Linked DNA regions of Homo sapiens: region 2 is reported to be linked to region 1. Evidence: microRNA targets listed by miRTarBase, many of them from high-throughput screens and not tested one by one. Region 1 holds a microRNA gene; the other region holds the end of a gene's coding sequence.

Evidence for each region. Region 1 holds the annotated microRNA hsa-miR-203a-3p (GUGAAAUGUUUAGGACCACUAG, at 2,057-2,078, shown strand). A microRNA usually pairs through its seed, bases 2 to 8, with sites in the 3' UTR of a target mRNA and lowers its output. Matches are read on the target gene's strand: a 7mer-m8 pairs with bases 2 to 8, a 7mer-A1 pairs with bases 2 to 7 and ends in A, and an 8mer does both.
Region 2: the mRNA of CLPTM1L is a reported target of hsa-miR-203a-3p. Seed matches in the 3' UTR shown: 7mer-m8 at 1,014-1,020 and 7mer-A1 at 1,049-1,055.

The regions. Positions count from the first base shown.
Region 1 is chr14:104,115,413-104,118,680 of GRCh38, forward strand. It overlaps MIR203A (microRNA 203a), which reads left to right and starts at 1,993; the gene lies at 1,993-2,102. MIR203B (microRNA 203b) reads right to left here and starts at 2,091; the gene lies at 2,006-2,091. ASPG (asparaginase) reads left to right here. Exons shown (of 16, transcript NM_001080464.3): 16 at 1-170.
Region 2 is chr5:1,315,780-1,319,047 of GRCh38, reverse strand. It overlaps CLPTM1L (CLPTM1 like), which reads left to right. Exons shown (of 17, transcript NM_030782.5): 17 at 595-1,296. The coding sequence ends at 679. Among named protein-coding and RNA genes, the nearest start is that of MIR4457, 8.0 kb to the right of the region's middle. RefSeq lists enhancers at 2,303-2,452, 2,743-3,132.

The sequences.
Region 1 (3,268 bases):
CTAGACCAGAACTTAGAATTAAGGAGTGGTGGCCAGGCTTGGTGGCTCACACCTGCAATCCCAGCACTTTGGGAGGCCGAGGCGGGTGGATAGCTTGAGCCTAGGAGTTTGAGAACAGCCAACATGGCGAAACTCTGTCTCTTAAAAAATAAATAAAAACATTAGCCAGGTGTGGTGGTTTGTGTCTGTGGTCCCAGCTACTTGGGAGGCTGAGGTGGGAGAATCGCTTGAACTGGGAAGATGGAGGTTGCAGCGAGCCAAGATCGCACCACTGCACTCCAGCCTGGGCAACACAGCAAGACTAGGTCTCAAAAAAAAAGAAAAAAAAAAAGAAAAGAAGAGAGGTGGGTTCTTCTTGCCCATGCAGTTGTGTTGGGGGAGGAGCTCCCAAGCTCCTGTTCTTGATCTCAAGCTCCCCTATGCCCACTTCCATCCCCACCCCCATGCCGCAGCCCCTCGGACTCCACACCCAGGCACTGAGACCCACAGATGCAGCGATGGCAAGGCCTGTCATCCCTTCTCTACCACCAAGAGCTGTGCAATCCCCAGAAGTCACTGTCCCTCCCTGAGCCTCAGTTTCCCCAACTGCAAAATGAAAATAACAAAACCTTTCTGATTCCCTTTCCAGGGTGGCTGCGGTGGTTGAGCCACACGCGGCCCATGTGGAAATGTCTGGGGGGTCCCTCAGATCTGGTGGCTGTGTTCTGGTCTGGGGCTCACCTTGGCTCCTGAGCACTTGGCTCCTGGCTGGCTGGGCGGGTGGTGGGATGGCGTGTCACCGCCCTGCACTGGAATGAATGGTCACCACCCTGCTGCCCAACCCCATACAGACACACTAATGGCTCCAGACTTGGGGCAAGTGCTGAAGGGGGCTCTAGGGTATTTCCTAGAGCCTGAGCCCTCCCCTCAGCTGCCATGTTCTGCTGAAGCAGAGTCCCTGGGAGGCGCCACTGGTCAGGCCTGGACACCTCCAGGTGACTAAGTGGGTAGGACCGGCAGGGCCAGCTGCGCCAGGACGTTCGGGGCTGGGCTGTGAGTGGGGGGAGCGAGGCTCAGGCCCTTGCTGCGTGAGGGGGTAGGGCGTCCCTCCCCCCGCGTGGGAAATGAGGAGGCAGGTACGGGGCTACCCCTGTGGGCTGCGGGGTGGGGGTTCAGGGTCTGAGAAGCAGAAACCTCCCTCCCTCCAGTTTCACTTTCTCTTTACCCCTCCCCTTCCCCCTCCCACGAAGTTCCCTTTGAAGTGAGAGGGGCTGGGGTGGGTGTGTCCAGCCCAGCCCCCACACCCACCGGAGAGCTAGCGCGGCCCTGGGCTCCTGTCGGGCGCTGGTCCTCACCTGTTCCGGCCACCCTGGGCCTCGACCCGGCCAAGGTGGAGCCCCGGGCCCTCCGTGCGCCCGAGCACCCCCGGCCCAGACGAGACGGTTCGGGCGTGGCCCGGCGGGGACCCAGAACCCGGGAGGCCAGGTGCGCCCAGGCCAGGCGCTGGAGGCTGGGGCGCCGGATGGGGCGGGGCGGCCGCTGAGTCAGGGCCACCCCCGCGCGGGCGCGCGGAGCAGGTCCCCGGGCCGTGGAGGATCAGTCGCGGGACCTATGGGCCCGGGAGCCGCCCCGCCCGGAAAAACCGGTCGGGCCAGCGCGGCGCGGGCACATTCCGGCGCCGGGAAGGGCGGCTGCGCCGCATAAAAGGCGCCGCCGCGCTGGCCACCGCCGCTCGGAGCTCAGCCGCCCTGCCACGCGGGGCCCGCGGGACGAGGGGACGCCGGGGCCAGCGAGGACGCGGCGGGGCTGGGCTTGGCGGCTGGGATCCCCCAGCGCCAGGCGAGGGCGTCTAAGGCGTCCGGTACGGCGTCGGGGCCGGGTGGCTGCAGCAGGGCAGGGGGTGCGCGACCAGCGGGGATCTGGGCGCAGGGGCCGGTCCCCGGGATCCGCAGGCGACGCGGGCGGTCCCAAGGGCGTCGGGGGCTCCTCTCTCCGCAGCTCGGCGAACCGACGGTGTTGGGGACTCGCGCGCTGGGTCCAGTGGTTCTTAACAGTTCAACAGTTCTGTAGCGCAATTGTGAAATGTTTAGGACCACTAGACCCGGCGGGCGCGGCGACAGCGACGGAGCGTCCCACGCGCGGCCTGGAGTCAGAGTCACAGTCAGGGGTGCGCCGGCGACCAATCCAGGGGAGCCCACGGACCGGCTCCGCGCTCCAGGTCGGCCGCCCCATGCGCCGCGCCCCGCAGTCCCCAGGGCCTGGCTGGCTCCACCTGCTGCCAGGGAAGACCCTCGGCCGGAGAGCCAAGTGCTGCTGGGAGGTGGCCGGGCGTGGCCGGGCTGTGCTGTGGGAACCGCTGGGTGGGGGCGCGCTGGGTTGCCCACGCTCCTGGCGCGCTGCCGGCCTGGAGACGCCGCCGCCGCCCTCTTGCACCCCGAGGGCCCGCACCTCGAAACTCCGTGGAATTCCCAGCGAGGAACTGGCGGTGGGCCCGTAGGGTTGAGGAGCGCTCCTTGCCCTGGGCTTCCTGGGAGCTGCCCATCAGGCTGCCGGCAGCCGCACCCTGCTGGGCGGCCGATGGTTCCCGCTGCCGGCTCCCCGGAGCGTCTCCACTCACTGAGGCCTTAGGGAGCGCTGCGCGGCTCCTACGAGTGCGCGCTAAACTCGTGAAGGACCTCGAGGCACAGGAACTGGGGGTGGGGAGGAAGTTTGCAGACTACACCCAGGTAGAGGAGAAGCGGCGCCCATGATGACAGGTGCCTTCGCCGGAGCCTCCCTGGAACCTCGTGGTAGCTAGCGCCCACAGGAGAGGTGTGCGCGTCAATCTGCGTGTGAAGCCCCGGGCGGCCCTGGGAGGGACTCAGCAAAGGGTCGAATCTGTCCCCACCTCCAGCCAGGGGCCGGGGTCTTCTGCCTGGTGCTGCCTGGCCTGCTGTGTCCTCTGGGGTGGAGGGTCCCCCTCCAGTCCCCACCTCCTCACCCAGTGTTTAGAGAGCTGCGGGGAGTCCTGGGAGATGGGTCAGACAGGCCTGGGTTTGAGGCCTGCTAGGGTGGCCTTGGGCCAGTCACCTGCCCTCTCTGAGCCCGACCTGCACACATAGGGGGTTGATGTGAGGAGACAGGAGGTGACTGTGGAGGGCTGTTCCAGAAGAGGGCCAGCAGCAGGACAGCAAGGTCCCCTGGCCACCCAGGTGGGGGGAGTGGAGTTCCCGGGAGAGCATCCACCACTGGCCAGTGCCTCCTCTGTTGCTCAGCAAATGCCATTGTGGCCACCTCTCAGGATCTGGCT
Region 2 (3,268 bases), not on the chromosome of region 1:
TCCAGACCTGCAAACGGTGTTTGGCCAGGATCACAGGGCCCTTGGTGGGCAGCAGGTCTGTTTTTAAGCTGAAACCCTGTACTTCTGTTCGCGGCCGTGTAGAGCTGCCCCTTATGCCACAGCTTCCTCATCCATACGTAGGGGTGATGTTGGCAAGGCCTCCGGGGCGCTCAGGATCAAAGGCGGCGGCAGTGTCCTGCCAAGTGTTCACAGCTGATGAGACGTGGTCCCTGAACACAGCGGTTCCTGTTCTGATCACTCGAGTCTCCGTGATGCCACCGTTCCCAGAAGGCAGCCCGTGCAGCCTCCGGGTCCCCCCTTCAGCCATGGCAGCCCGTGCAGCCTCCGGGTCGTCCCTTCGGCCAAGCTTCCCTTTCCTTGAGAGCAGCACGCTGGCCTGGCCATGCAGAACAAAACACAACTCAGAAATCCCTCCTCAGCCCTCGGCAGTAAAACTTCTGAGGATTCGACTTTTTAGTTAATTTGCTCACTGTGGCAGCTCACTGGAAAATAAATCGAGGATGCCAAGTCCTCCTCTTAGAAAAATAGCCCCTGCAGTGGGGTTTGCTGATGTGCTCATTTGTGTCATTGCAGGCTTTATCCTGTGGATAAACGCAGAGTGAACGAGTTTGGGGAGTCCTACGAGGAGAAGGCCACGCGGGCGCCCCACACGGACTGAAGGCCGCCCGGGCTGCCGCCAGCCAAGTGCAACTTGAATTGTCAATGAGTATTTTTGGAAGCATTTGGAGGAATTCCTAGACATTGCGTTTTCTGTGTTGCCAAAATCCCTTCGGACATTTCTCAGACATCTCCCAAGTTCCCATCACGTCAGATTTGGAGCTGGTAGCGCTTACGATGCCCCCACGTGTGAACATCTGTCTTGGTCACAGAGCTGGGTGCTGCCGGTCACCTTGAGCTGTGGTGGCTCCCGGCACACGAGTGTCCGGGGTTCGGCCATGTCCTCACGCGGGCAGGGGTGGGAGCCCTCACAGGCAAGGGGGCTGTTGGATTTCCATTTCAGGTGGTTTTCTAAGTGCTCCTTATGTGAATTTCAAACACGTATGGAATTCATTCCGCATGGACTCTGGGATCAAAGGCTCTTTCCTCTTTTGTTTGAGAGTTGGTTGTTTTAAAGCTTAATGTATGTTTCTATTTTAAAATAAATTTTTCTGGCTGTGGCATTTTTCTTGACCTGGTATAATGAAAGTATTTCGGATATTTGAGTTTAACCCTTTTCCAGAAAGTAATACATGATATGGATTTATTTATGCATTAAAAGAGCAAATTTAAAGAGCCCTTTGCAAGCCTTTGAGTCATGAGTGTTCTTAGATACGTAGCATCTTAGTTGTTTAAGACTAAACTATTGTACAGAGCCATGACCCATCAGGTCAAGCTTATCTTGCCCTAGGTTGAGGCAGAGAGAGAGAAATGGAATAGAAAGATGGGTGGAGAACTGCTGGACTCGGTGTGTAGTGAAGTTTAATGTTTGTTGAAGTTAGTTTTTGTGGGGTTTGTTGTTCTCAGCTCACAGCAGCCTCCACCTCCCATGTTCACACAATCTTCTTGCCTCAGCCTCCTGAGTAGCTGCGACTACAAGTGTGCACCACCACATCCAGCTTTTTTGTATTAATATTTTTAGTAGAGATGTGGTTTTGCCATGTTGTCCAGGCTGGTCTCGAACTCCTGATCTCAAGTGATCACCCGCCTTGGCCTTTTGAAGTGCTGGGAGTACAGGCATGAGCCACCACACCTGGCCTCTAAATATATAATCTTTTTTTATTCCTGGTCATTTCCTTGCTCTAAGTCTCCTTTGCCAATAACAGCTTTCATCCTCTTGTGTTTCTGGAACAGGCTCCCCTCTCATGGGCCTGGCTTCCTTGCAGCTGAGGGGCTTTGGGAGCCCTGCTCAGAGCCCCAAGCCTGCAGGCCTGTTCCATGTGTCTCCACGTAAATGGACGAGACACACCATTCCAGGATGCTCATTCAGGCTGAGAACCAAATCCAGATGCTCTCAGTCCATTCGCAGATGACAGTGAAGTTTCTGTACACTCTGCTTTCTTCTGGATCAGATAAATCTTTTATAATTAAGGTGTTGTAAACTTCACTCGATTTGAGAGGAATGCACTGGGGCTTCAAGTTGTCATCTTTCAGTTTTATTCATTAAAATACGAAGATACCAGATGAGTTGGCACAGGAAAACAAATACGAATACACGGCCTGTACTGTGTTACTTAGTCGTGTGTTGTAAGTGGGGTCTGGAAGGGTGGCTGGGAGAGCGGGTGAACTGCCGGTTCCAGATGGGACGCACAGCACCTTAAGGGGCCTGGGGGGGCACACGGGAGGCGGCTCCAGAGGCAGGGCAGATAGTGGGGGCCCGCAGGCAAGTCAGCAGTGGGGGAAAGACAGCAGAAGGCGTGAGGGTCTTCATTGGTGTATGTGAAGGTCACGAGGTCACACGGCCCTGCCCATCACAGGTGCGTCGGTCTGCGGGGAAGTTGAGGCATCAGGGAACAGGAAGTTTTAAACGTTTACAATGGATCTTACCCACACAGGCCGTGCCTTTGCCTGCGGTGTCAGATTACTAGGGCGGGGTGCGGTGGAGGGTGTCCCTTCCACACCTGTGGTTTTATTTGTCTTTGGGGGAGGGGAGCCTTGCTTTATAAAACACAACTGGCTGTGTTCTGTAAGGCTTCACCCAGCACATCCTGTTGGCAGCAGCTAAGCACACAAACGGGAAAGGAGTATCGCCCAACTCCACCGATGAACTCAAAGTGCCTGGCTTTGCCTGGGGGATGCTGGCAAGGTTAGGTGCGGTTCCCAGCGTTTCTTCTGCCTCCTGGGGCACATCCCGCGGTGGGTCAGCGCCTGCGGCCGGCTGCTGCAGAAATAGCGTCATTCGGCCCCTGCATCAGCAGCCAAAGCCGGGCCTAACTGTCAGGAGCTCCGTGGATAGCTTTGCTGCTCTCGCTTTTCAGTTTCAGTATCAAAAATAGTTGCTACAAGAACTGATTTTTGTCATAGCACCTGCTCTTCCATTTGGGCTGGCGTGCTGAGCAAAGGTGGGTGCAGGCGCCTCATCAGCCTGACAGCAGAGTCAGCTTAACCTGAGTTTTCAGGAAGCACCGTGGCAGGCCCCCAAAAGGGGCAGATGTCCACCGTGCACTGCGTCTGCTTCTGCAGTCGGCCCTCCAGTGCCGTTTTCTTTCACCTGCAAAGGGCCTTAATGCGTGAACCAGCTGCTGGTGACTGTTAGTCTTGCTCTGTTTAA